7 linked regions of the Homo sapiens genome follow. The protein of the gene in region 5 purifies or fractionates together with the protein of the main gene of each other region. This does not show direct contact. Each region holds a gene or a part of one and is shown on either strand. Other genes may lie near its edges. The genes, in order: NUP214, TSPAN3, DBT, ECI2, ACOT13, ATIC and ZMYM2.

The links.
Region 1: the proteins of ACOT13 (region 5) and NUP214 fractionate together in Homo sapiens (co-fractionation; one large-scale study listed by BioGRID). This does not show direct contact.
Region 2: the proteins of ACOT13 (region 5) and TSPAN3 fractionate together in Homo sapiens (co-fractionation; one large-scale study listed by BioGRID). This does not show direct contact.
Region 3: the proteins of ACOT13 (region 5) and DBT purify together in Homo sapiens (affinity purification with mass spectrometry; one large-scale study listed by BioGRID and IntAct). This does not show direct contact.
Region 4: the proteins of ACOT13 (region 5) and ECI2 fractionate together in Homo sapiens (co-fractionation; one large-scale study listed by BioGRID). This does not show direct contact.
Region 6: the proteins of ACOT13 (region 5) and ATIC fractionate together in Homo sapiens (co-fractionation; one large-scale study listed by BioGRID). This does not show direct contact.
Region 7: the proteins of ACOT13 (region 5) and ZMYM2 purify together in Homo sapiens (affinity purification with mass spectrometry; one large-scale study listed by BioGRID and IntAct). This does not show direct contact.

The regions. Positions count from the first base shown.
Region 1 is NC_000009.12:131,194,625-131,198,933, forward strand, and holds part of NUP214 (nuclear pore complex protein Nup214), read left to right. Parts: intron 1-608; coding exon 609-670; intron 671-2,591; coding exon 2,592-4,309. UniProt on the Homo sapiens protein: Part of the nuclear pore complex. Has a critical role in nucleocytoplasmic transport.
Region 2 is NC_000015.10:77,064,320-77,068,628, reverse strand, and holds part of TSPAN3 (tetraspanin-3), read left to right. Parts: intron 1-4,309. UniProt on the Homo sapiens protein: Regulates the proliferation and migration of oligodendrocytes, a process essential for normal myelination and repair.
Region 3 is NC_000001.11:100,208,051-100,212,359, forward strand, and holds part of DBT (lipoamide acyltransferase component of branched-chain alpha-keto acid dehydrogenase complex, mitochondrial isoform 1 precursor), read right to left. Parts: intron 3,075-4,309; exon of another isoform or gene 2,990-3,074; intron 2,722-2,989; coding exon 2,644-2,721; exon of another isoform or gene 2,643-2,643; intron 1-2,642. UniProt on the Homo sapiens protein: The branched-chain alpha-keto dehydrogenase complex catalyzes the overall conversion of alpha-keto acids to acyl-CoA and CO(2).
Region 4 is NC_000006.12:4,121,708-4,126,016, reverse strand, and holds part of ECI2 (enoyl-CoA delta isomerase 2), read left to right. Parts: exon of another isoform or gene 1-646; coding exon 647-767; exon of another isoform or gene 768-1,057; intron 1,058-3,970; exon of another isoform or gene 3,971-4,068; intron 4,069-4,309. UniProt on the Homo sapiens protein: Able to isomerize both 3-cis and 3-trans double bonds into the 2-trans form in a range of enoyl-CoA species. Has a preference for 3-trans substrates.
Region 5 is NC_000006.12:24,701,043-24,705,351, forward strand, and holds the end of ACOT13 (acyl-coenzyme A thioesterase 13), read left to right. Parts: intron 1-416; coding exon 417-573; 3' UTR 574-4,004; downstream 4,005-4,309. UniProt on the Homo sapiens protein: Catalyzes the hydrolysis of acyl-CoAs into free fatty acids and coenzyme A (CoASH), regulating their respective intracellular levels. Has acyl-CoA thioesterase activity towards medium (C12) and long-chain (C18) fatty acyl-CoA substrates.
Region 6 is NC_000002.12:215,332,008-215,336,316, forward strand, and holds part of ATIC (bifunctional purine biosynthesis protein ATIC), read left to right. Parts: intron 1-374; coding exon 375-500; intron 501-1,342; coding exon 1,343-1,450; intron 1,451-2,911; coding exon 2,912-2,997; intron 2,998-4,027; coding exon 4,028-4,117; intron 4,118-4,309. UniProt on the Homo sapiens protein: Bifunctional enzyme that catalyzes the last two steps of purine biosynthesis.
Region 7 is NC_000013.11:19,993,227-19,996,726, reverse strand, and holds part of ZMYM2 (zinc finger MYM-type protein 2), read right to left. Parts: coding exon 2,808-3,500; intron 1-2,807. UniProt on the Homo sapiens protein: Involved in the negative regulation of transcription.

The sequences.
Region 1 (4,309 bases), on a different chromosome or scaffold from region 5:
ACGTACAAAAGGAGAGAGGAGATGGTGAAAGGAGTCACAAAGTTTTTGAACTAGATTTTCCTAGCCGTAAAACTCAGTTCTGTCAAAATGACTGAGTTAGGGCTTCTATTTCATTGTATCCATTGTTTTCCCTAGCAGTGTGGGGCTCTCTGACATGCTTGTTGGTCTTGGAGGGGTTCTGAGAGGCTCTCCCTAGTCTTAAGTGCTTCTGTCTTACCAGACCTTCCTTCTGTCCCCTCACTTAACAGACCATCTGCTCCGGCCACCATTCCCACATGCACATTTGTCATGTGTCTCTACTGCTGCAGCTTTGCTCATCTTGCAAGAAGTCCCCACTCAAACTTCTGCTACAGAAAGCCCAGCCATCCCCCAATGGGCTCTCAACTGCTATCCCTGTCGTATCTCACACACAAACTGCTTCTCTGCTTAGAGATCATAGAGTGGCCTTACTGCTTCTGAGATAGGTGCTTTGACTCTGTTGTCATTTATCTTCTAGATTGTAAATTCCTGAGGGCGGTTTGTATGAATGAATGATAAAATGGAATATTAAGAGGGCAATATTGTGCCTTGGTTTGTTCCTTTTTAATTTCTCTTTTTCCACTTGTTAGGACTGGCTTTAATTTTGGGATAATCACACCAACACCGTCTTCTAATTTCACTGCTGCACAAGGTACAGACTCTGTGTTGAGTAGCATTACTCATGTGTTTTCTCTAAATAAGTACAGGTTATTTTTGCCCACATGTTAGTATTTGACTTGTTCCTGAATCTTACTTACAGTATCTGCAATAAGCTCAGTGTTGATAATGTGCATTAGAAATATGCTTAATTTAAGAAACTGATGTGAAGGATTTCTATTTTTATAATTAAGGACAAGGAAAGGATTTGCTTCTAGAAAATCAGGGCTGTGCTTTAACATTTAAATGTTAACATGTGAATTAAAATTTCTCCATTTTTTGTCTGTAATTTAAAATTTCTTCAATTTATAGGGTGATTCTGTAGGGCAAGATAGACATGGTAATAGATAGACTGTAGAAATGAAAGACCAAACTCGTTTTTTTCCTTGATAACATACCAGCAAACACACTCATCCCATGCATGTTGTTAAAAATCCATCAATAGACTGGGCGCGGTGGCTCACGCCTATAATCCCAGCACTTTGGGAGGCCGAGGCAGGCGGATCACCTGAGGTCAGGAGTTCAAGACCAGCCTGACCAACATGGAGAAACCCCGTGTCTACTAAAAATACAAAATTAGCCAGCCGTGGTGGCGCATACCTATAATCCCAGCTACTCAGGAGGCTGAGGCAGGAGAATTGCTTGAACCTGGGAGGCAAGGTTGCAGTGAGCCAAGATTGTGCCATTGCACTCCAGCCTGGGCAACAAGAGTGAAACTCTGTGTGTCCCCCCCCCCCCCCGCGCCAAAAAATCCATCAATAGCATGTTTTTAACATTTAAAAGAATTTGAAGCCCTATAAAGAAACCAGATCTATTTGTTAAGTGCCTTTCAGTTATCCGTTTATGATTAAGTCTTTTATTTTATTTATTTATTTTGAGATGGAGTCTCACTGTTGTCATCCAGGCTGGAGTGTAATGGCGCAATTGCAGTTCACTGCAACCCCCACCTGCTGGGTTCCAGCGATTCTCCTGCCTCAGCCTCCCTAGTAGCTGGGATTACAGGCGCCCACCACCACATCCAGCTAATTTTTGTATTTTTAGTAGAGACAGGGTTTCACCATGTTGATTGATCAGGCTGGTCTCGAACTCCTGACCTCGTGATCCACGTGCCTTGGCCTCCCAAAGTGCTGGGATTACAGGTGTGAGCCACCACGCCCGGCCTCGTTACTCTTGTATTTATTAACCACTGTTGTTTGACCAGGCCTTATGGGTGCTTTACCCATATTTCCTGCGATCTTTGTAACAGCACAATGAAGGTAGGTATTGTAATGATCTAGATTTTCCAAATGGGGGAATTGAGGCTCAGAGAGGTAAAGCAACCTTTCCAGATTCACACAACCAGCGAGTGGCAGAGTGCATAGCTCCAGAGCCCATGTCCTTGACCACCAGACCGTACTGCCTCTGTCAAATAGCTGACTTAGTAGAGCACTAATAAGTAGCCATTAATTGTACATAAAAATGATTTTCTGTGGACTGACACTTTATTTGCTCATAAAAATGAAGGAAGAACTTCCATTTTGAATCAAGTCCTGGTCTATCAGGAGGTCCACAGGCCATTGCTGTGCTGAGGATGTTATTAAGGAAAGCACACAGCTAGGGTAAATTAAGGGAAGAGGCTTTTTTATTTCTCTTTGGGATAATATGTTAATTTCACATATTCTAGATATTTTGTATTTGTTGTGATTTAATGGTCATAAAAAAAGTATTTTTTCCTTTTCACCTCAGACGACTCAGAGCTGATGTTTGTGTGGAGAAGCACTCATTCCACCTCCTTAGAGAAAGCTGCTGTGAGAACAAGGCACCCTGACTCTGTAGAGGGAGGAGAGAAACTTTGGCTTAGAAACACAATCAGTGGAAATGTAATGGGTCATCTTTTGCTAAATCCAACCCATTTTCTGATTTCTTTTTCTTGCTAGGGGCAACACCCTCCACTAAAGAGTCAAGCCAGCCGGACGCATTCTCATCTGGTGGGGGAAGCAAACCTTCTTATGAGGCCATTCCTGAAAGCTCACCTCCCTCAGGAATCACATCCGCATCAAACACCACCCCAGGAGAACCTGCCGCATCTAGCAGCAGACCTGTGGCACCTTCTGGAACTGCTCTTTCCACCACCTCTAGTAAGCTGGAAACCCCACCGTCCAAGCTGGGAGAGCTTCTGTTTCCAAGTTCTTTGGCTGGAGAGACTCTGGGAAGTTTTTCAGGACTGCGGGTTGGCCAAGCAGATGATTCTACAAAACCAACCAATAAGGCTTCATCCACAAGCCTAACTAGTACCCAGCCAACCAAGACGTCAGGCGTGCCCTCAGGGTTTAATTTTACTGCCCCCCCGGTGTTAGGGAAGCACACGGAGCCCCCTGTGACATCCTCTGCAACCACCACCTCAGTAGCACCACCAGCAGCCACCAGCACTTCCTCAACTGCCGTTTTTGGCAGTCTGCCAGTCACCAGTGCAGGATCCTCTGGGGTCATCAGTTTTGGTGGGACATCTCTAAGTGCTGGCAAGACTAGTTTTTCATTTGGAAGCCAACAGACCAATAGCACAGTGCCCCCATCTGCCCCACCACCAACTACAGCTGCCACTCCCCTTCCAACATCATTCCCCACATTGTCATTTGGTAGCCTCCTGAGTTCAGCAACTACCCCCTCCCTGCCTATGTCCGCTGGCAGAAGCACAGAAGAGGCCACTTCATCAGCTTTGCCTGAGAAGCCAGGTGACAGTGAGGTCTCAGCATCAGCAGCCTCACTTCTAGAGGAGCAACAGTCAGCCCAGCTTCCCCAGGCTCCTCCGCAAACTTCTGACTCTGTTAAAAAAGAACCTGTTCTTGCCCAGCCTGCAGTCAGCAACTCTGGCACTGCAGCATCTAGTACTAGTCTTGTAGCACTTTCTGCAGAGGCTACCCCAGCCACCACGGGGGTCCCTGATGCCAGGACGGAGGCAGTACCACCTGCTTCCTCCTTTTCTGTGCCTGGGCAGACTGCTGTCACAGCAGCTGCTATCTCAAGTGCAGGCCCTGTGGCCGTCGAAACATCAAGTACCCCCATAGCCTCCAGCACCACGTCCATTGTTGCTCCCGGCCCATCTGCAGAGGCAGCAGCATTTGGTACCGTCACTTCTGGCTCATCCGTCTTTGCTCAGCCTCCTGCTGCCAGTTCTAGCTCAGCTTTCAACCAGCTCACCAACAACACAGCCACTGCCCCCTCTGCCACGCCCGTGTTTGGGCAAGTGGCAGCCAGCACCGCACCAAGTCTGTTTGGGCAGCAGACTGGTAGCACAGCCAGCACAGCAGCTGCCACACCACAGGTCAGCAGCTCAGGGTTTAGCAGCCCAGCTTTTGGTACCACAGCCCCAGGGGTCTTTGGACAGACAACCTTCGGGCAGGCCTCAGTCTTTGGGCAGTCGGCGAGCAGTGCTGCAAGTGTCTTTTCCTTCAGTCAGCCTGGGTTCAGTTCCGTGCCTGCCTTCGGTCAGCCTGCTTCCTCCACTCCCACATCCACCAGTGGAAGTGTCTTTGGTGCCGCCTCAAGTACCAGTAGCTCCAGTTCCTTCTCATTTGGACAGTCTTCTCCCAACACAGGAGGGGGGCTGTTTGGCCAAAGCAACGCTCCTGCTTTTGGGCAGAGTCCTGGCTTTGGA
Region 2 (4,309 bases), on a different chromosome or scaffold from region 5:
TAGTAAGCTACCTAAGAGGTAAAGATGTGGCTTTGTACTCTTTACAGTTCCTTGTGAATTTATGGCCATAACTATTTGATTTTGAAGAATATTAGGTGAATTCTAGGTTATTCAAGCTCAGGGACTGGAATTGTTCATGTAACAAAATATTGGAAATACAGTAACCATTTTCTTTAAATTAGATTTTTATTTACTCTAAAATATCAGTTCTAAGTGACTCCTCTGAATCTTTGGATATTGTGTAAATATATGTACTGTTATTCCAGTGAAGAAAGTTATTTTGAACTTCAGTGGTGCTTTTCATAGCGGGTTATTGCCAAGACTGAAGTGGTAATGTTTAGTAAAAATATGCTTTATCTTGGTTAGTAGGGTAGTAAAGTTTTTGTGAGCTGTGATAAGGAAGTTAAGCAGATACGCTGGGGGCAAATGTGTCACAGTGCAATGTAGCTAATGAGGAAACAGCATTAGGTATGTCTCCCAAGAAAGTATTAGTTTGTGGACTAACTGTGGGAATCTGATGATGATGGGTAATGGCAACTAACATTTGAGTTACTATACCCCAGGCACTGTGCTAAACACTTTACATGGCATATCCTCACAGCTTTCCCATCTAGCAGGGAATATTAGGTACATTTTAGAGGAGAACATTAAGGTTGACTGAGCCAAAGTAGCACACCCAAGGTGTGATACAGCCTGCGTTCAAACCCAGGTTGTCCCATACTCTAGAGACTGTGATGTTAGGACAAAGTGTGATTTCAGAAGATTTGTAAAGAGAAGAAAGTTGTTAGAATCACTTCTCTAAAGCATGCTGATTTTGAGATTGCTAAAATTAGAAACTGTACCAGAATTTACATGACACTTTGTTTGGTTTTGAATTAAGTCATTATGAGGAAGTACATTAAAAAATGTTAAAAGGTTCTTCCTGGGAATTTGTAATGCATTCTTCAGTTCTAATAAATGTATTCTTATATGCTGGCCCCTCCCTCCTTTTAATGCCTTGAGATGATGAATAAGTGGAAGAATAAACATACTCTCCATAGAGCTTATCAAATGTTTACCTAGGTTCCCTTGGGCAACTGTAGGCAATAAAAACTATGTTGCATTGGCTCTTCACTGTCAGATGGTAATGGCTGATTGTTAACAAGGGTCAAAGTTTAATTGCTTTGGCAAGACCTTTAAACTACACTTTCTTATGTCTTGATATCCTGATTCTGCTGGCATTTTGTTCATTGAACTGTGACATGGAGATAGATATATACCTGAAATACTCAGGCTGTAAATTATCTGACAGCTAAAATCGTTACTGTTGATTTGGTGTAGATAGTTTGGAACAATGCTGTAATAATGTTACTGTGGAAAGGCACAAACCAAAAGCAGAAACAATCATTTCTAAAATCCTGAAATTTGTCTTAATGGAAATAGGGAACTCCTGCTATGGTTAGAATGTTTGTCCTTTATAAAACTCATGTTGAAACTGAATCCCCAATGTGGCCGTATTGAGAGATGGGGCCTTTAAGAGGTGATTGGGTCATGAGGGCTCTACCCTCATGAATGGATTAATCCATTCATGGATTAATGGATTAATGGGTTTTCATGGGAATGGGACTGGTGGCTTTATAAGAAGAGGCAGAGAGACGTGAGCCAGCATACTCAGCCCCCTCACCACGTGTGATGTCCTGGGCCACCTCAGGACTTTGCAGAAGGCCCTGACCAGCTACGGCCCCTTGACCTTGAACTTCTCAGCCTCCATGTATGTAAAAAAATTTCTTAAATTACCCAGTTTCAGGTATTCTGTTCTAAGCAACAGAAAACAGACTAAGACAGTTTCTCACCAAATTCTAGAATATTAAGATTTGTAGCTTGAAAGATAATCTTGGACAAGTGAAAGGATGTACAGCTTGGATCATCTTGGATCTCTGTTTTTATGGAATGATGAGGCTTTAAATATAAGTGTATTCATGCTGGACCCATGAGGATTTATTGAAGAAGGTTAGAAGTGTTTTAGGTAAATGACTAAATTTTAAAGGCTTTTTTTTTTTTTTTTTTTTTTTTTTTTTGAGACGAAGTCTTACTCTGTCGCCCAGGCTGGAGTGCAGTGGTGCGATCTTGGCTGACTGCAGCCTCTGTCTCCCGGGTTCAAGCGATCTTCCTGCCTCAGCCTCCCGAGTAGCTGGGACTACAGGCGTGCGCCACCATGCCCAGCTAATTTTCGTATTTTTTTAACAGAGACAGGGTTTCACCATATTGGCCAGGCTGGTCTCGAACTCCTGACCTCTTGATCCATCTGCCTTGGTCTCCCAAAGTGCTAGGATTACAGGCGTGAGCCACCGCGCCCAGCAAAGGCTATTGTATTAAATAGGCATTAGCCTATTCTGTAAACTGCACCTTTGTACCAAGGTCAGACAGGATTTTTAGTTTGGTAAGTCATTTAATCTGACCAAAGAGGGCTCGTCTAAAACAAGTTTAAATCAGTACTTCCTACCATTAAGTTTTTATTCCGGTAAATTAATTGATTATTTAATCAAGTCCTATGTTATACAAATTACCTTTACTTTTTTTTTAAACCCTATTAGAAAAACTAATTGGCTAATACTTATTTTGCTCATATTTATCTTAGGCATTACAGGGACTGGAACAGAAAGCTTTGTCCATGCTTATAGAATTTATAATCTTAAATATCTATTTAGGTTGTTGTTTTTCATCTGAGAGGTGATAGTATAAAACTGAGACACCTGTAGAGTGGGGGAAGTACCGCAAAAAAGTCAAACGCCTTTTAAATAAATGCCTTTAGAAATAGCTTTGGAACGTGGCACCTTCACTAACCATCATTCATTCATATGAAATACTTCACACATATAAATTGTAGTTGAAAGCCATATGTAACCTTTAAAACTTATCCTGCCTTTAAAAATAAAACTTATCAGCCAGGTGCGGTGGCTCATGCCTGTAATCCCAGCACTTTGGGACGCCAAGGGTGGCAGATCACCCTCCTGACTAACACGGTGAAACCCCGTCTCTACTAAAAATACAAAAAATTAGCCAGATGTGGTGGTGGGCACTTGTAGTCCCAGCTACTCGGGAGGCTGAGGCAGGAGCATGGCGTGAACCCGGGAGGCGGAGCTTGTAGTGAGCGGCGATCGAGCCACTGCACTCCAGCCTGGGCGACAGAGCGAGACTCCATCTCAAAATAAATAAATAAATAAAACTTATCACGCTTATGTCTGTGAATGTATATAATTAAGGAAAATTTGCTTTGTTAAATATAACACTACTATTTGAGCACCTACTTTGTGCTTATATTGTTGATAAATGATGAAAAGACAGTGAAAAATCCCTATTCTTACAGAACTTACTTTCCGGTGAAGCAAGACACACAAAAATAAACAAGAAAAATGATCAGAGTGATGTGTTATGCAGAGAATTAAAGGGTGATGTGATAAAGTGATTGGGTCGTGCTTTATGTTGGCAAAAAAAATCTGGAGTATAAGAAGTTGCTGACTTGGGTGATTTGGAAGAGATTGGGAGACTGGGGGGATTCAGAACTGAAGGAACAGGCTGTAGGCTGTAAGGCAAAAATATACTTGCTATGTTCAAATTACTAAGAGGTTTATACCGTCATGCTTTTGTTTAAAAAATAAAACTTTATAATGAGGTATTTCAAGTGTGGTTCTCCCTTGTCACAAATCTTGTACATACTTTGTGTTTTCCAGCACATCCTACACATTCGAGGTGGTAATATGATACTTTTAAACCGGAACCTGCATCTGATATCCTGGAATTTGTTTCTCTACTTCCTGTATTTCTCCTATCATGAATGACTGCTCTGACAAAGAATATGTCATGGGACACACCTTCAGCTAACTTTGCTTTTTCATGCTTGTTTTCAATTCACTAGAAGAAAATCTAACTTGTCAGGAAGCAAGTACATAATAGGAAGTGTCTGTCTTAGTTTGTCTTCAACAGTTAAGAAAATGAATGTTTCCACTCTTACTACATTCTTAGTCACCTGTCCACTGACCAAGAGCCTTGTGGCCCTGAGTAATCATTTAGAACTTGGAATCAGCAGGGGCGCTCTCTCTAGTTGCAGTTTAGGGAATGGGTTATTAGCTTTCTAGGATATTTATCATGCTTTGAAATAATTTAATGAATTTTATTCCATAAGATCCAATTCAGGTTAGGCTTGTTTGATTTTTTTTTTCAGAAAATGTATTCCATAAAGTTTGTACTTAGACCAGACGGGTGTACTAAGAATCATTCATGAGTAAATGTGTGTTGAATATCTACCCTTGACCTTTTTTTGAGAAATAGA
Region 3 (4,309 bases), on a different chromosome or scaffold from region 5:
CATGAACCCAGGAGGCAGAGTTTGCAGTGAGCCGAGATCGCAGCACTGCACTCCAGCCTGGGCCACAGAGCAAGACTCTGTCTCCAAAACAAAAACAAAAAAAAACAAATCCAACTTTGTTTCATGCACAAAAATGTTAAAAATATTGTATAAAATTACCTTTAGGCTATGTGTATGAGGGGTAAATGAAACATAAGTGAATTTCATGTTTGCACTTGAGTCCTGTCCTCAAGATATCTCCTTTGTATATGCAAATATTCCATAATCCAAAAAAATCTTAAATCCAAAAACGCTTCTGGTCCCAAGCATTTCAGGTAACGGATACTTAAACTGTAGAGACTTTCTGGAGAACATATGACAACATGAACCAACATTTATAAAAATTCGTGTTAAGGAACTAAGTGCAGAAGTATGTAGGGATACACAGGGATGTTGAGTACACACTGTTTATAAGTTTGAGAAACTGCAAATAATCATGATGTTTATAAATAGGTCACTGGCTAAATAAATAACAAAGCTATACTTGTTGACAATGATGTCTACAATATAGTAAATGAAAATGAAGAGGCTGGGCACAGTGGCTCATGCCTGTAACCCAGCACTTTGGGAGGCTGAGGTGGGTGGATCACTTGAGCCCAGGAGTTAGAGACCAGCCTGGGCAACATGGCAAGACCCCATTTCTACAAAAAAAAAAAAAAAGTACAAAAATTAGCTGGGCATGGTGGCACGTGCCTATAGTCCCAGCTACTCAGAAGGCTGCGGTGGGAGGTGGACACTGCAGTGAGGCGATGATTACACCACAGCATAGATATTCTCTATGGGGAATACTTTAGATAGGCAACAGAGCAAGACTCTGTATCAAAAAAAAAAAAAAAAGAAAAAGAAAAAAGCAAGTTAAAGAAAATATAAATAATTCTATATCTTGTAAAAAGTATGTAAAAATGAAATCCTAGAAAGATGTATATCTCAACATAAACAGTGAGCTATCTTAGGGTCATGGAATTGAGGGTAAACATCTTTGTTTTCTTTTTTCTTTTCTTTTCTTTTCTTTTTTTTTTTTTGACAAAGGCAGGGTTTCACTTTGTCACCTAGGCTGGAGTGCAGTGGCATGATCACAACTCACTGCAACCTCCATCTCCCAGGTATCATATGATTCTCCTGCCTCAGCCTCCCAAGCAGCTAAAACTATAGGCATGCACCACCATGCCTGGCTAATTTTTTTTTTCTGTAGAGATGGGGCCTCCTAACTTTGTTGCCCATGCTGGTCTTGAATTCCTAGGCTCAAGCCATCCTCCTACCTCTGTCCCCCAAAGTGCTGGGATTACAGGCAGGAGCCACCACACCCGGCCAACATCATTTTCTTGCCTGAAATTTTTTTAATAAGTATATACTTAATCAGGAGATATTAAAATTAAAATTAATACAGCTGACTGTATTAACCGTATGGGAGCTGACCTCCCAGAATATCTAAGCTCACTTTCTGGTTGTACATGTCTTTTCTTTTTTTTCTTTTTTTAATTCTCTTTTTGAAATGGAGTTTTGCTCTTGTCGCCCACGCTGGAGTGCAGTGGCACAATCTTGGCTCACTGCAACCTCCGCCTCCTGGGTTCAAGCAATTCTCCCACCTCAGCCTCCTGAGTAGTTGGGACTATAGGCGCTGGCCACCACGGCTGGCTAATTTTTGTATTTTTAGTAGAGACAGGGTTTCACCATGTTGGCCAGGCTGGTCTCAAACTCCTGACCTCACATGATCCACCCGCCTCAGCCTCCCAAAGTGCTGGGATTATAGGCGTGAGCCACCGTGCCCAGCCTCTGGTTGTGCACTTCTAATGATAAGTAAACTTCAGGAAAGGCATCTCAAAAAGAGTTTTCGGTCTTAAGAAACTTTCACTACTCACAGAAGAGTTTACTCAAATTGAATTCAAACTTTTATTATTTTTCTCACTTAAATTATTCTTAATATTAAAATTCCAGGAATTTGCCAGGCACAGTGGTTCATGCCTGTAATCCCAGCACTTTGGGAGGCTGAGGCAGGAGGATTGCTTAGACCAGAAGTTCAAGACCAGCCTGGGCAACATAATGAGACCACGTCTCTACAAAAAATTTAAAAATTAGTTGGGCATAGTGGCGCATGCCTATAGTCCCAGCTACACAGGAGGCTGGGGCAGAAGGATTGCTTGGGCCTGAGAGGTTGAGGCTGCAGTGAGCCACAATCACAACACTGCATTCCAAACTGGTGACAGAGTGAGACTCTGCCAATAATAATAATAATAATAAGAAGAAGAAGAAGAAGAAGAATAAGAATAATAATATTAAAATTCCAGGAATTCAATTTTGAAAGAGCTGCTTCTTTTTGAGAGGGTAAGTAGAGTGGGTAACATAATCTGCCATACAGCTATGTATTTCCATTATTTTAAGCAGGAAAAAAAAAAGCTTAAAAATAGTTTTAAGAATCTCTAAACAGTATTATTAACACAAAAACAACAACAATGAATTAGACTTAAGTTTAATGTTTTACCCCATACCTTTAATTCTAGTCTAAAAAAGATCACTATTTGAGGTACAATAGAAGTCTCTAATCTACAAGCACATTTGCCCCATCTTCTATTAATAATAAGAACATTTTTACTCTGCATAGCCAACCTTATATGTTATATTCTGGCAGTTTTCATCCACAGAAGCGTTAAGGATAGGAAACTGTAGTAATCCCAAGGAAGCAGCCTGTTTAACAGAAAAAGAATGCAATTTTAGTACTTTTAACTTAGAAAGGATAGAGAATTTGAAACAATAAGAGGTATAAAAGGAGGGAGAGAGAGAACTCTTATTTATGCTGAGTTTAATTTCAAGTCTACATGTACCTAGTCACATTACTGCCAATGTTACCTTCAGGCCATGTGGAACTAGGTCACCCTAATCATTAAAGAATAAAAGATAAAGTAGTCAGGTAGCTTGTAAACATCAAGGAGATTTTCAAAATAATGATACAGACCAGCCAAAGTTCCAAAGAAAATGTCTAAATTCTAGGTGATTTCCTCACTGACATGTTGATCTTAAGATTTCCATGAGAAGTAATACTAGGAATCAAAACACAAAAAAAGCAGGTAAGCTATTTCTCTGTGTGGAAAGAACACGTAACGAGGATTTCAAAGCGCACTGACCAGTAGATGCCAGTTTGCTACTTGGTGTCCTTGGCCAGCTGAAGGGCAGAGATGTCCTGAACATTTACTTTACAGCTCAAGTCTCACTGAATAGCATTTATATTTTCCCTCTCTGCTGCCTTCTCCCTTTTGTCACTTAATACCATTTCTCTCCTGTCCATATTCAGATTTCCCTAACTGTACCCAAAATGTTCTTGATAATCTGTTTTTGGGATCTAATAATCAAGTTTCATACCTTACATGTGGTGGCCATGCATTGTATTGAATTTAAAAGATAGCAAAATAAAAATGCTTAAGATCATTCTTAAAAAGAATTCCCTCCCCCACTGCCCTTGTCTGGTCCCTGTTAAAGTTCTTTACATGCATTGTGTTATTCTTCTCAGTGCATCGGGGTCTTGATGGGAAAAAAATCAAATTCTTGAACTAGAGAGTTAAGAAAAAAGTTTAAATATATAGAGACATTTCATTTTCATTAGTTAGGACAGGTTAAGAGAGTAGATCAACTGAAGAAAAATATAATTAAAAGAACTGCTACGAGTTCCTTAATTTTTATGACTTGGAAGTTTTTCTTGTTTGTTTTTGAGACAGGGTCTTTCTTTGTCACCTAGGCTGCAGTGCAGTGGCATGATCTCAGCTCACTGTAGCCTCAACGTCCTTGGCTCGAGTGACCCTCCTGCCTCAGCCTCCCGAGTAGCTGGAACTATAGGCGTGTGCCACCATGCCCAGGTAACTTTTGTATTTTTTGTAGAGATGGGGTTTCACCATGTTGCCCAGGCTGGTCTTGAACTCCTGAGCTCAAGCAATCTGCCTGCCTTGGCCTCCTAAAGTGTTGGGATTACAGTCGTGAGACACTGCGCCCAGCCAACTTGAAAGTTTTAGTAAGCATTTGATTCAATAACTGTAATTTTAATAGTCTTTATCTAAAAACCCCTAAGGTTAGTCTAAACTGTTACATATAAAAATATTTGAGTATAATCCAAATTTTGTCCAAGAAAATACAAGGTATGTGTCAATGGATTAGGTCATTTGTTCCCCCTCTACAATACTGTGTAGTATTTTTTCGAATGTTCTGAAACTTATGTTTTATTTTAAAACAAAATAGCCAGGCATGCTGGCTCATCCCTGTAAGACCAGCCTGGGCAGCACTGCGA
Region 4 (4,309 bases), about 21 Mb from region 5:
TTGGACAAGCATATTTCTCTAAACTGCCTCCATCCATAGGTGGGCATTCATTCTTTCTCTTTGACCTCTGTTACCTGTTCATCCTGCTGGTCTCATGAGATTTGACTGGAAAACATAAAAGTGAGCTATAGTTGTAAACAAAATTATCTTGCACTGAGGCAGAGGAATTTAGCAAATTCTCATCCAGCCAGAGGAATGGGAGATTTCCATGAACGCTGAAGGTAGGAGACTCGGAGGAGTCTTGTAAACACAGGAGGAGGTCATGAAGGCTTTTCTCTTTATTCCTGCCAAATCTGTAATTCCCACTTGTTGTGATATTGCAGCATGTGCTCAGTCACCCAACCTAATCTCTAAGACTGCGGCTGGTTTACAGCCCTGAACTCACTGTCCAGAATACAAGATTCAAACCAGGGTTGACCCATAGGTCTCACTGGTTGGTCTTCCATCCACTGCCATTCAGACGGATGCCCTGGATGAATCTGGTGCGGAAGACCAGGGAAGTGGCAGGACAAGGAGGCACTGCTGGTGGTGGCTGTGGAAACACCCAGCCTGACAGAAGGCTTTATCTCAGAGTCAGACTGTCTTGCCCATGCTTTAGTCATGCTGCTTTGGCACATTTAATGATTTTGTGTTTCCATTTCTGTAGGGAATTTGTGGGCTGTTTTATAGATTTTCCTAAGCCTCTGATTGCAGTGGTCAATGGTCCAGCTGTGGGCATCTCCGTCACCCTCCTTGGGCTATTCGATGCCGTGTATGCATCTGACAGGGTAAGTCAGCTCCTAGAAAGCAAGAGGTCAGGCAAGCAGCGCGAGATGAGAGCCTTTGAATCCTCCTTCAGCGTTGCCAGTCATAAGCAGGTTACATGTTGTTTGTGGTAGAATTAACTGAATTTAGATTTTTCCCAAAGCATTAGGCTGATTTGACTGATTTTATTTTTCCTTCATTATTAACTTGCATTTTGTTGTGAACATTGTTCCAACTCTGACTGTTCCGGATTCTAATCAAATTCCACAATAGGTATACAGCTTTCATGTTATTCTGAAAGATTCAGGAGACACTTGAAAATTTGTTATGGGAGGGAGGAATAGCATCTTTGCAGGTTGTGCAAGGGATTAGTTGATCCTTTTTACTGAGTAAATGGATTTAGAATTTTAGAAGGAGAAGGACCTGTGAGCATTATCTACTGTCACTCCCTCCTTTGCAGATAAGAAAACTGAAGCTCTGAGAAGTTCCTTGCCCAGAACACAATTCAGCCTTGTGTTCACCATTGCATTATACAGATTTTAGTTTTTATTTTTACTACAGTAGTAATATATATGTCATAGTGGAAAATAAAATTTTGAAAGATATGAAAAAGTACCAAGAAAAGCTACAAGGTAAAAATCACTCCTTATCTTGCCACCTAGAGATAACCAGTCCTAACGTTTGGGTTATTAACTTATCTTGTTTAACCAGTCCCTGACTGCTGGAACCCTAGGCTGTTTCCAATTTTTATCATTACAAGCACCTAATAACCACCTTTAGGGTATCAGATTGTCCAGTGACTTATGCTTATGTGATGGTAAACTGTGCTGATGATTGCAGCCTTCTAGGGAGCATATGGTTTTTACCACTGAAGAGATTTCTAGTTTTGTTCAGAGGTATTTTCCCCACTGATAGACAGGACCATATAATAGCATCCTTAATTCTTCGAATTTTCTTTTGCTGGATTCCATTGAACCAGATTGGATGTATTGACAGACCTAATTCTTATGAATAATTTTCCCACAAAATTAGCAAATGAGATTCTAGGTGCCAGGCTGCCCAGCCTTTGTAGGTAGAGGTTTCTGTTCAAAGGCAGAAATCAATGTCTTTGTTCACAGTCTGTGTATTAGATGACTGATTAGTCATTGACCTGCTTTTAACAGGGACTGGGTCAATGGTTCCTGACCTAAAATTGGGGATCTCATTCTTTAATACTTGGAGGGCAAATATTGTATTTGAATCTTGTTCTGATTCTCCCACTGAATTGAAAATTACTTTCAATATACATCATCCTTATTTTTTTTTTTTTAAGAGATGGGAGTCTCACTCTGTCACCCAAGCTGGAATGCAGTGGCACGATCTTGGCTCACTGCAGCCACCACCTCCCGGGTTCAAGCGATTCTCCCACTCAGCCTCCTGAGTAGTACAGGTGCGTGCCACCACATCGAGCTAATTTTTTTGTATTTTTAGTAGAGACAGGGTTTCACTGTGTCGGCCAGGCTGGTCTCGAACTCCTGACCTCAAGTGATTCGCCTGCGTTGGCCTCCTGAAGTGCTGGGAGTACAGGTGTGAGCCACTGAGCCTGGCCTGCATCAACCTTTTAAAAATGTTGATGACTTCCATCTTATGATATAAATTGTAATAAATGTTGAAATCAGAAAACATATATACATAATACATATAAAACATATCTATTCTATATATATTATAATATATGTATATTGCATATATATATTAAATGCTAAAAAATTTGGCCAAAAGTAAAATTTATTTGTCAAATAGTGTCTTCTGATAAAAGTTTACCCAACCAAACAAATCAAGCATCATTTAAAATAAAGGAAATTGAGGTGGGCAGATCACCTGAGGTCAGGAGTTCAAGACCAGCCTGGCCAACATGGTGAAACACCATCTCTACTAAAAATATAAAAATTAGCCGGGCTTGGTGGCGGGTGTCTGTAATCCCAGCTACATTGGAGGCTGAGGCAGGAGAATTGCTTGAACCCAGGAGGTAGAGGTTGCAGTGAGCCGAGATCGTACCACTGCACTCCAGCCTAGGTGACAGAGCGAGACTCTGTCTCAAAAAAATATATAAGTAAAAAATAAATAAAATAAAGGAAATATGCTAAAGGAAAAGGCTGTAGAAAAAATTGTTTTATAAGATTTACCATTATTGGCTTCAAGAATAAATATCATATTAAATGATGGGTTAATATTTAACCCATATAACCAAAATATTAATCAGTACATTTAATCTATTTTATACTGTGGGCAATGGTTAATAATGCCTATTAGCTCTGTCAGCAAATGATACATTTCCTGTATGAGTTAAGAAAAAGGTAGAAATCATAACAATAATAAATCTTTGAGTGGTCACTGTTTAGGCACTCTATTCACATGCATTATGTATATTATAAATATACGCATACACACACACATATTCACGTAATGTACAGAGTAGCCCGATGAAAGAAGGACTTGGCCAGGCACAGTGGCTCACGCCTCTAATCCTGGCACTTTGGGAGGCCAGGGCAAGTGGATCACCTGAGGTCGGGAGTTCAAGACCAGCCTGGCCAATGTGGTGAAACCCCTTCTCTACTAAAAATACAAAAATTAGCCAGGTGTGGTGGCAGGCGCCTGTAGTCCCAGCTACTTGGTAGGCTGAGGCAAGAGTAAGGCTGGGCAACAGAGTGAGACCCTGTCTATAAAAACAAACATTCTCCTCCAATGTGGCAAAAATAAGTTTTACAATCTAGGCTGGGCATGGTGGCTCATGCCTGTAATCTTAGCACTTTGGGAGGCCAAGGCAGGTGGATCACTTGAGGTCAGGAATTCGAGACCAGCCTGGCCAACATGGTGAAGCCCCGTCTCTACTAAAAATACAAAAATGAGCTGGGTGTGGTGGTGCACGCCTATAATCCCAACTGCTCGGGAGGCTGAGGCAGGAGAATCGCTTGAACCCGGGAGGCGGAGGTTGCAGCGAGTTGAGATTGCGCCACTGCACTCAAGGCTGGGCAACCGAGCAAGACTCCGTCTCAAAAAAAAAAAAAAGCAAAGAAGGATTGGTTCCCATTTTACAAATGAGAAAACTGTGGTACAGAGAGGGTAAGAAACTTTCCCAACGTCCCTAAGTAGTCTGACGCCAGAGCCTAAACCCTTAACTCCACCTGCTGCTCTCTTTCTGAAAATCAGCATTTTAAATGCTGCTTACTGGCAACTTTGCATGTACCTGTTTGTGTCCCTTTAGCTGTTGTTGGCAGGTTTCTCAGTTTCCTGCTTGTATTCCTTAGGCTGTGTCTTCTGGGTACATTTTTTTGAATAAGTTTTCTTTTGGATAAAAAAAGAAGATACATGACATTAACAGAAACTTTTAAAAATATTGTGATTATTTTTATGTATATGCTGCATATGTTATAGATTTATATCTTCTAACAGTTATATAGTAAAAACAACAGCGTGTCTGATTATAGGAAATGAAATCTAAATATTCTTTTACATATTATGAATTTTAAATTAACATTCTTTCATAATTTATTCATTAAGAAACACAAAAATATGTCTTAAATGT
Region 5 (4,309 bases):
TTATAGTTGTTATATTGTCATTTTAGAGTCAAATAAATTGTAAATATGGATAGGACAATATACAGACACCAAGTGATATTTCATCTAAGAAGTTAAGGAGATTAAATGAAAGCTGGAGGAAATCTTTCACCAGCCCCAAATAAATGTGAAGTGGGAAATGTAAAGGGAAAAAAGGGGAGGCAAGAAAACCTCTTCTCACATATTTGGGAAAAGAAACTTGTGTGGGTAAGGAATGGGTAAAATAGAACCTGGTTAGGACCAGCCATTCACATTTGATAGTACAGAAAGCTTACCAATACTACCGTTAAAACTATTTTTAGGAGTAAAATAAGTTACATAGGAACACTGTTGTGAGATGCACACAACTTTCCCTTTGAAAAATTATCTGCTGTTAACTATATTCATTTTCTTTCAAGGTACATGTCACCTGCAAAATTAGGAGAAGATATAGTGATTACAGCACATGTTCTGAAGCAAGGAAAAACACTTGCATTTACCTCTGTGGATCTGACCAACAAGGCCACAGGAAAATTAATAGCACAAGGAAGACACACAAAACACCTGGGAAACTGAGAGAACAGCAGAATGACCTAAAGAAACCCAACAATGAATATCAAGTATAGATTTGACTCAAACAATTGTAATTTTTGAAATAAACTAGCAAAACCAGAAGCAGCTAGAAATATTCTTGGAGGAAAAGGACCTGGATATCAAGTAGGGTAAAGGTGGGGGTGTCTTTTTTCACTTTAAGCATCTTGTTTTCTAATCATGTGTGATAATTGGGTGAAAAATTCTTAGCTCAAAGTGTTTTAAAAACAGGTAAAGCAAAGAAACTAGCAGGACCACTCTCAGTTAAGATTAAAACTAAAGTCCAGTGTTAAGCTAAAGGAGAAATAGAAATTAATGGTTCTAATTCTGTTTGGGCTGCTAGGAACAACAGAAATTTTTCATGGTTCTAGAAGCTGGAAAGTCCTGGGTCAAGGCCCAGCAGATCCTGTTAGGTGAGGGCCCGCTTCCTGGCTCATAGATGGTGCCTTCTCACTGTGTGGTGGAAGGGGCAAGTGAGCCCTCTGGGTTCTCGTTTTTGAAATGGAGTCTCGCTCTGTTGCCCAGGCTGGAGTACAGCAGCACGATCTCGGCTCACTGCAATCTCTGCCCCCTGGGTTCAAGTGATTCTCCTGCCTCAGCCTCCCAAGTAGCTGGGACTATAGGCATGTGCCATCACACCTAGCTAATTTTTGTAGTTTTTTGTAGAAACAGGGTTCACCATGTTGGCCAGGCTGGTCTCGAACTCGTGACCTCAGGTGATCCGCCTGCCTTGGCCCCCCAAAGTGCTGGGATTACAGGTGTGAGCCAATGTGCCCAGCCTGGGTTCTCTTTTGTAAGGGCACTTACTCCAATCTTGAGGGTTCTGCCCTCGTGATCTAATAACTTCCCAAAGACCCCCACCTGCTAATATCACCTTGGGGGTTGGGATTTTAACATACAAATTTAGGGGAAACACATGGAGACCACAGCAATGGCCAATCCTTAGCGAATCTTAGGTCCTTCCCAGATCTAAAATGCCAAGCTACACTTGCATTTCCTTTTTTTAAGATTATGAAACTTCAAAATATATGAACTACAGCCCATATTGAAAAATAAAATAGATTGAGCCATATGCCTAAAAAAGACCTCAAGAAAAGTTTGAGGCTAAGCATGTTAGTGTTACAGGAAATGGTCCAATAGAGGGGGAAGAAAAAAAGCATGCTACTAGCCCCTTTTCTTGTACCGAGAATAAAACCATGCAGATCTCAAACCTCCAAGTCTATAGTATTGAAAAGACCAAGTTCACTTCTCAGAAGTCTCCAAGTTCAGTTGACTGTGGCACTCTGAGACAGCTTCTGTCACTCAGGCTGGAGTGATACAATCACAGCTTCCCATAGCCTCAAAATCCCAGGCTCAAGACATTCTTCCACCTCAGTCTCCTGAGTAGCTGGAACTACAGGCGTGTGCCACCACGCCTAATTTTATTTTTGTAGAAACAAGGTCTCACTGTTGCCCAGCCTCGTCTCAAACTCCTAGGCTCAAGCAATCCTCCTGCCTTGGCCCCCCAAGTACTGGACTTACAGGTGTGAACCACTGCACCCAGCTGACTCTTACTTGATTTCTGTCAGGGAATCTTAATGAACATTTCATGACTAAAGACTAAAAAGGATGCAGCTTTAAGTAAATTTAAGTCAAGTTAACAGTTAAAGACAAATCCTTTCCCTACATTAGATCGCCTGCTGATCTGTCCACTGTGAAAGGGCAGAAGACTCCACAGTAGCAATAGCAGCAGTGAGCATACAGGAGTCCCAGATGTTTACTTCTAGTATTTCCCACTAAAAGGAAGCTGGGCTCCTTGGAGAAACAGCTGACTCCAGGGCTTGAGGCTGGGACAGAAAGGTTACAGTATCTTATGCATGAAAGGAGATGCTCAAAATAATAAAGGCATGCAAATTATGATTTGGAGGGAAAAAATATGAGGCCATAGTGTTTAGGTAGATAATAAATGGCAGAGATAGAACACTCTCTTACAACAAATGCTGTAAATGGACAAAGCATTAGATTTGGAAAATCACTATTTTGTAACCATCATAGTTAAAGACTGGTTTGGGTTTTAGTCTGGAAAGAATCGCCAAGGGAGCTCCTGATAAAGGAACAGGGTATTTGCACATTGCTTCCCAGAGATTGCTAGTAGTAAGTACCACACATAGGGCAAAACCAGGACACCTTGACCAGGCGCTCAAAAGTAACATCAATGAAGAGCAGATGGAGAGTATACTTGAGAAGGGCGTTAAGCATGAATAAACAATTCAAATGCAAAATGAGTAACAATTTACAAGAAAAATTGCCCTGTACTCCAAAAAACATAGAGGTCATGGAACACATAAAGGCTAAGGAACTGTTCCACATTAAAGACAACTGAGAACAACTAAATTCAATGATCCTGTACTCTAGAGGGGGGGATCTAAAACAAGCTACCAAGGATACTGGGACAACAAAACGAATATGGATGATAAAGAGTATCAACATTCCCTGAGTTTGGTAATTTTACTCTAGTTATATGAAATATTCTTGTACTTGGAACATATGCCGAAGTACTAAGGAAGGGGTAAGGAAGCACAAAGTGTGCAACAAACTCAAATAGCTCACAGGTATAAGTGTACAGAGAAAATGAAAAAAATGTGGCAAAATAATAAAAATGAGGGTAAAGATTACACAACAGCTTTCATATTACTCTGGTAACTTTTCTAAATTATTCCAAAATAAAAACGTAAACAATGGCTGCCAAAATGCCTAACTTGGTGAACATAAGTGTAATTCAATATGGTAAATTAATTCAACATGGTAAATTAAGAGCATAGGCCTTAAGAGCCAGCCAGCCTGGTTTTAAATCCTCCACTACTTATGATCTGAGCTTGAGCAAGTTACTTAACCTCTGCATCTATTTCCACCAAAGGTTGAGAGGTTAAGACAAGAGCTTAGAAGAGTACCTGGTTATAATAAACATTCAAAATGTTATTTCAAATAGATTCTAATTTTTAAATAAGAGGACACATGAAAGCATTTTGAAATTTAAGAATGGCCCTTTCCCATGAAGCAAGGCATAAGGCCAGGTTGCTAACTGTTGAAAGCTGACAGTATGTTCTTGATTCCTGTTCTTGTTGAAGTTACACACTCAATTGCCAGGTATTTTTCTTCTGAATTTACTATTTAGCCACAGACTATGAAATAATTCTCTAAGGTGACCAGTAACATCAGTGAAATGGAAAGAAAAAGTTAACACTTCAAACTTTGTGTATTCACCTGAATAGTCAGGGAACTTTCACCTATTTTATTTAGGTTTTCTTTTTCTTTTTTTCTTTTTTTTTCAAATTCCAACCAGAAGCTAAATACAATTGGAAACTGGTAAGCACTAGTTTTACTCCAAAGGAGTAGGATCATTCAGATTTACTCCAATAAAAGTATGCAACCCTTAAGCAAAGCTTTTCTTCATTTAAAAGGAGAAAAAAAAAAAAACCTATACAGTAGTCTTTCCTTATGTTCATTGCACAAAATGAGTTCTGCTTTTAGAACTTTGACACTCAATGGTTAATTTTACAATTTAAGATTCCAACTTTATAACCTTTTTTCTACTCCAAAACACCCTTGTAAAGTTTTTCTTTAGGATGGTGTAAAAACCAGCATTTCTGCACAATTCACTGGAATTTTTTTCTTTGTAATAAAAATCTCTTCTCTGTAAAACCAAAAACAAAACAAAACAAAACAAAACAAAACCAAAAGA
Region 6 (4,309 bases), on a different chromosome or scaffold from region 5:
TTTAATCTTAGTTCTGTATTTACATGAATTCCTGACTGATCACTAGTCTTGTCATAGTTTCTCCCATCCCTAAATCTCTTATTGTGGATTTATTTCTAGACTGGCTGGTTCTGGTCCTCCAGTCGTGTGTGTGTGTGTGTGTGTGTGTGTGTGTGTGTGTGTGTGTGTTCATGTACATGTGCATTTTTTTTAAAGATGGGCTCAGGCTCAGTTGCTTTGTTCTTTATCATCAAGATTTTATGTTTGTGTGTATCTGTTTGGCTCTTAATTATACTTAAAACATTTGTTTAGTCATGTTATTTTTTTGAGAAGTGTGCATACATCTGACCTTACTGATCCTGCTTAGTAATGTGCATGTATATTTTTACATTTAGTTCTAAATGGAGCCCCTGGATTTATAAACTTGTGCGATGCTTTGAACGCCTGGCAGCTGGTGAAGGAACTCAAGGAGGCTTTAGGTATTCCAGCCGCTGCCTCTTTCAAACATGTCAGCCCAGCAGGTAAAGCTCTGTGCTCTGGAAAGCTCCAGAATTGTTCGAAAGGCATTTCTTCTTAAATTTTTTTGAATATTAACAAGTTCTAATGTGAATATAGACATGCTATGAAATCTGAAAGTCATCTGTTGATAACAGTATCAATGTAATAATATAAAATCTGATACACACACACACACAGAATTGTGTAATATTGTCAGGAAAATGAGGCAGGAATTTGTTTGTGGGGTGGAACCATAAAAGTTTAGAAAATAAAAGTGAAATGTCCTAATGCAATAGACTAAGTCTTGTGCCACATCTTTGAAAATGTAATGGAGTAAACATAAAGAAGTTCTTCTTTGGACTCTTTATCTGAAACTTCTTATAGTCGTTGTATGAGATACTTTGCTTCTGTGTTTAAATCATGAACTCCGCAATTGAGTTGTCTGTACACCACATCTTGCTGACAGTCCTCCAGCACATGATTTGTTCTCAGGTGTTTATTGGGTGTTAAAGTGATGTGAGTGGGGAAGAAATAAATGATGTGTGATATCAAAGTGATATCAAGCAGAACAGAGAGAAAGAGTGAGTCAGTAATGAAGTAAACGAGCTTCACCTACACGCTGGGTACTGTCAGGCTTCAGTGGCTCTGTGGTTTTGGAGGGCAGAGAGGAGATTTCCCTCACACTGCTCCCACAACCATATTTTTAGTGTATAATTATCTGGCTAAATAGATTTCTGTTTAATTTAGCACAGGCACTAGAAAATGTGCTGCGTAGACTGGGTGTTAAGAAAACTGTCTTGATTTAGGAGTTGACAGGTAGTAACTTTAGCTTTCTTTGTTTATGATTTTACTATTTTCTAACCAGGTGCTGCTGTTGGAATTCCACTCAGTGAAGATGAGGCCAAAGTCTGCATGGTTTATGATCTCTATAAAACCCTCACACCCATCTCAGCGGCATATGCAAGAGCAAGAGGTCAGACTCATAGGGCTTTTTGATTTGGGGGAGAAAGAAAAAGCAATATTTTATCCTAAATAGAATAAAGAGGATAGAATAAAGAAAAAATATATAGATATTCTGTATAATATATAGATGAAATTAAGGACTTCTATCTCTATGTAAATATACAGTTATTCTATATAATATAGTTTGATTAAAGTAAAATACCCTTTGTTTCATTATAGGATTTCCTATTTAATTTGTTTTATTAATATTTGAGATTGATTCTGTGAGTACCTCAAAATACATTTCTTTATAAAAGTGTATGTTAGTATTTTAGGCCGGGCGCAATGTCTCACGCCTGTAGTACCAGGACTTTGGGAGGCTGAGGCGGGCAGATCACGAGGTCAGGAGATCGAGACCATCCTGGCTAACACGGTGAAACCCCGTCTCTACTAAAAATACAAAAAATTAGCTGGGCGTGGTGGGGGGTACCTGTAGTCCCAGGTACTCAGGAGGCTGAGGCAGGAGAATGGTGTGAACCCGGCAGGTGGAACTTGCAGTGAGCCAAGATAGCGCCAGTGCACTCCAGCCTGGGTGACAGAGCGATACTCCGTCTCAAAAAAAAAAAAGTATTTGTTAGTATTTTAGTGTAATAAATGGAAACACAATTGGAATTTGGTCAATGTAATTTTGCTAATTTAGGCTATTGAATGCATTTGTTATTGTTTAATATGTGACCAAAATTGAAATTACAAAAAGCTATTCTTTTTTTTTTTTTTTTTTTTTTGAGACAGCTTCTTGCTCTGTTGCCCAGGCTGGAGTGCAGTGGCGCCATCTCAGCTCACTGCAACCTCCACCTCCTGGGTTCAAGCGATTCTCCTGCCTCAGCGTCCTGAGTAGCTGGGATTACAGGTGCGTGCCACCACACCTGGCTAATTTTTTTGTATTTTTAGTAGAGACATGGTTTCACCATGTTGGCCAGGCTGGTCTTGAGCTCCTGACCTCAAGTGATTCACCTGCCTCAGCCTCCCAGAGGGCTGGGATTACAGGCGTGATTTATGGCTCTTCTAACTTTACTACATTTGGTTAGAGTCATGTTTTATCAGAGACATTTACTTGTTGAATTTAATAACCCATGAATATCCCTTTAGTATTTCTGAAAGTTCTTGAGAAACTATTACCATAGTTTATCATCTACAGCAGTGGTCAGCAACTTCAGCTGAATCCAGCCTGCCACCCTGTTTTTGTGAATATAGTATATATAAATTGGTCCTTCACAGAAAAAGTTTTCTGAGTGTCACTCTAGAGGGTAAAATTAAAGAATACTTTCTTACTGGTTACTTCAGTTAAATGACTTATTGATCTGTTAAAATCTTATGTAAACAGTAAGATTAGCTTTAGAGTAATGAATTTTATATGACAGTGGAGAATTTTATTACTTTTTCTGTATCAGGATACTTTGTGATAAATACCTCATTTTAATTTTATTTACAGGGGCTGATAGGATGTCTTCATTTGGTGATTTTGTTGCATTGTCCGATGTTTGTGATGTACCAACTGCAAAAATTATTTCCAGAGAAGTTAGTGGACATTCATGTATCTTAATCTGTGTGTTGAATAAAGCTTTATTTGTTCATAATGTTAATTGAAACCATAACCTATAATATTTATATTTATAATATCTTTTAATTAGCTAAGTTTATCATTTAATGTTCATATTTTAAATAGAACATTAATCTTAAATTGTTAATTTTGAAATGTAGTGAATTATTGTTTCAGATGGATATTTGGCTGTTATGATGTTTTTTACTTATATATTTATTTTAAATTCTTTGTTGTCTTCATGCCAAAGTTACTGTTTCTGAAGAGCAGAAGTTGTAATTTTAGGTGGTGATGCGATATAATCCATCTTACTGCATAGTGGGTAAAAAACAGAAACTACATTAATAAACTTACCCCATCAGTTGAATACCAAACAGGTATTCCAGACAGGTGGGGGTACTGTTGGTAGTAGGAAGACAGGAAGAAAAGAGAAAAAGATTAAATAGCTCAGAAAGGGGAAAAAAATAAGCAGAGGTGAAGGCTGAAGGAGCATGTGGCTTGGCACTATTTTGTTGCTTTAGGATTCTTTCCATGGCCACTGCCATCCCTGGGTTACAGGTTACAGGAGGGCTGTGACATTTGTATCTTTCGTCATGTCAAATCTCTGATTTAATCTGGTCTTGCTGTTAAGGAAAACGCCTTGCCGGAAGAGGTCATTTAACCATGTACTAGGAGAGTCAGGACTAGAATGTGCTCTTGCTCATTCAAAACACTCCCTGAAGAAATATTTCCTCCTGAGGTACATGTGTTAAGAGCAAATCAGTCATATTTTCTTAGTTTAAACTGAAACGAACAAAAACTTGGAGAGGACAGAAAGTTAGGATCTGCTATACAGAAAGCTGTATTCTAATAGATTTCTCTTTTCAAGTATAGCGTTAGCATTGTTTGTTGGAGGCAGAAACCAGAATATGCTGCCACATTATTTAAGACTGATAATTGCTGCTAGATTTTTTTAAGAGGTGTTCTCTGATTTTTAAAAATAGAAATTAAAATTTAATATTTTTGCAGGTATCTGATGGTATAATTGCCCCAGGATATGAAGAAGAAGCCTTGACAATACTTTCCAAAAAGAAAAATGGAAACTATTGTGTCCTTCAGGTGAGTGCAATTCATGTTTGAAGCGGTAATTTGCTCTTTTATTCTGTGTCTCTTTCTCCCTTGTTTACTCTTTCCTTTATACTCATACCCTTCTAGTTTATCCTTATTATAGTTTATTTTCCCCAATCCTGCATTTAAAAAAATACTATTAACTTGGGGTTTTGAGATGAGAGTAGCTTTCTTACCCTCAAT
Region 7 (3,500 bases), on a different chromosome or scaffold from region 5:
TTTGTTTTTTGAGACAGAGTCTCAGTCTGTCGCCCAGGCTGGAGTGCAGTGGTGCAATCTCTGCTCACTGCAACCTCCGCCTCCCAGGTTCAACAAATTATCGTGCCTCAGCCTCCCGAGCAGCTGGCATGCACCACCATGCCCCACTAATTTTTGTATTTTAGTTGAGATGGGGTTTCACCATGTTGGCCAGGCTGGTCTCAAACTCCTGACCTCAGATGATCCGTCCACCTTGACCTCCCAAAATGCTGAGATTACAGGCTTGAGCCACCGCAACCAGCCCTGGCTAGTTTTTTTTTTATCTTTAGTAGAGACAAGGTCTTGCTCTGTTGCCCAGAGGCTGGTCTGAAACTCCTGAGCTCAAGTGATCCTCCTGCCTTGGTCTCCCAAAGTGCTGGGATGACAGGCATGAGCCACCATGCTTGGCACCAGCTCTTGTTTTAAATTATAGATTTTCTAAGCAGTCTTCAATAATCAGACATTACTCGACAAATAAGAAAAATAACTAGCAATTCATATAGCATTCTACATTGCCTAGATTTTAGTTACTTCACATTATTCTCCACAATCCCTAGGATAATGAGCCTAAAATGATGACAGAATGGGTCAGAGAGAGGCATGTGAGAGAGAAACGCCGATAGACACACACACACAGAGGAATTGGGGGAGAGGTTAAAGAGAGAGAGAGACATCCACAGACATGTCATGAAAAAGTCACAGAGTTTGTTTTGTTTTTGAGACAGGGTCTCACTTTGTCACCCAGGCTGGAATACAGTGGTGCAATCCTGGCTCACTGCAACCTCTGCCTATGGGGCTCAAGGAATCCTCCCACCTCAGCCCCCCAAGTAGCTGGGACCACAGGTGTGCACCACTATGCCTAGCTAACTTTTCATATTTTCAGTATTTTGTATTTTTTCACCACGTTGTCCAGGCTGGCACAGAGTTCTTATCACTTCCATATTTTAAAGTTTTCACAGAACAAGGCTGCTCACAGAAAACAATTTCAAATAGTCAAGAAAACTATCAACCTTCAAAAAAAAAGGTGGGGGGCTGGGTACAGTGGCTCACACCTGTAATCCCAGAACTTTGAGAGGCCAAGGCAGATGGATCACTTGAGGCCACGAGTTCAAGACCAATCTGGCCAACATGGTGAAACCCCGTCTCTACTAAAAATACAAAAATTAGCTGGGTATGGTGGCACACATTTATAATTCCAGCTACTAGGGAGGCAGAGGCTGCAGTCAGCCGAGATTGCACCACTGCACTCCAGCCTGGGCGATACAGCAAGACTCTGTCAATAAACAAATAAATAAGAAAAAAAAGTATTGCTTATTTATGCCCTTGAAAAATAAAAATAATTTTTAAAAATTTTTTAGTAGTAAAATGCTAACTAAAAGCTAAAGATACGTGGTCAAAAATAAACACGGCATTATCGAGTTGTAGACATTAAATATATACAGCCTTTTGCATGTCAATCATAACTTTAAAGTAGTTTTAGAAAAGAAAAAAAGGATGATATGTTTGGCTTTCTTCAAATGTGAGAAAAATAAAACCTTAGCCAACTCTTAATAAAAAATAAAATGGCTGGGCATGGTGGCTCATACCTAGAATCCCAGTACTTTAGGAGGCCAAGGCAGAAGGAATGTTTGAGCCCAGGAGTATAAGACCAGCCTGGGCAACACAGTAAGACTCCGTCTCTACAAATAATTTTTTTTTTTTTTTTTAATTTAGCCAGGCATGGTGGCTCACACCTGTGGTCCCAGCTACTCTGGAGGCTGCGATGGAAGGATCACCTGAGCTCAAGAAGTCGAGGTTGCAGTGAGCTGAGATTGTGCCACTCTACTCCACTCTGGGCGACAGAGAGAGACCCTGTCCCAAAAAATTAACTAATTAATTAAATTAAATAAGCACAGGGAAAGTAGAAATAAATCTAAATGCGGCCAGGTGCAGTGACTCACGCCTGTAATCCCAGCATTTTGGGAGGCTGAGGTGGGCAGATCACCTGAGGTCAGGAGTTTGAGACCAGCCTGGCCTGGCCAACATGATAAAACCCCATACAAAATACAAAAATTAGCCATGCGTGGTGGTGGACGCCTATAATCCCAGCTGCTTGAAAGGCTGAGGGAGGAGAATCGCTTGAACACAGGAGGCGGAGATTGCAGTGAGCCAAGATTGCGCCACTGCACTCCAGCCTGGGTGACAGAGCAAGACTCCATCTCAAAAAAAAATCTAAATGCAACTACTGTACAATATTACACTGTTCTTTAAGTGTGCTATTATATTAATCTTTTGGTTCTCTAATTTATATACTAAAACACTAGTAAAAATTCTATTAGCAAAAAGTAATGCATGACAAACAAGATATTAAATTATCACACTTCATTCTTTTGTTTGTTTTGCTTTTTAAATTTAGAGATGGCGTCTCGCTATGTGGCCTAGACTGGTCTCGAACTCCTGGGCTCAAGCAATCCACCCACCTTGGCCTCCCAAAGTGCTGGGATTACAGGTGTGAGCCGCCGTGCCCGGCCAAATTATCAGACTTTGGTGATGAATGTAAAGAGTATTTTTTTCTTAAATCCTTTAAATATAAAACTACTTTATGATTAACTTTTTAGTAATCCACAGAAAAATACTATACATGGTTTTACAATTCTTATTAAAATACCAAACTTAAGATAAAATTCAATATAATTCACATATTTCACATGATGAAACTAAACAAGGTAATACCAGTTACTACAATGAAAAAAGCAGCAGCCAAAAGTTTAAATTCATTTACATGAAGTAGAGTATCTCTTACTGCTTACCAGGATTATGATGAGTTGCAGATTCTCCATTCTGAAAAACGTCTCCTGCCACATTCATTCTACCAGGATTAAAAGGTCCTACTCCAGTCTTGGTCTGTGAAGTTAAAGATGGGGTGTATGTTTGTATATTAACACCAAAATTACTTGACTGCAGTCCGTTAGAGACATCTCCCAAGTTGGTATTCTGCAGTGATGTTACATGTGTAATCATTAAGTTCATATCTCGCCCGTCAGTATTTTCTAATTGGCCATCATTCACAGAGCTTACACCTGTTTCTAAAGTTGTAACATTAGCAATCTGAATTTCAGAGTCTGGTTCTGTGGTGATACCACTATTACCCATTCCTGCATTTACCTTACTTCTTGAAAAACTGGAAGTGGAGAAATCCACATCATTGGTTCTGTTTTTAGTCTCAGGAGGTCTTCGTTCAATAAAATTGGAGGAATTTTTCTCTTGCCCTTGATTTGTTTCCATGTCCTCTTCATCATCAATGACAATTGTCTCACTTACACTTCCCTTCTGAGATGCCAACTCTTTTGAGGAAGGAGTAATTTTGGAATCATTTCCTTGTAGTTCTTCATTTTTTGATGATGTAAATGTTATGGTTCTTTGATCAGCTACCACTGGTACAGAAGGTGGGGGAGGTTGTACAGGTTCGATAAAAACAACATCATCATCATCTTCCACTGACG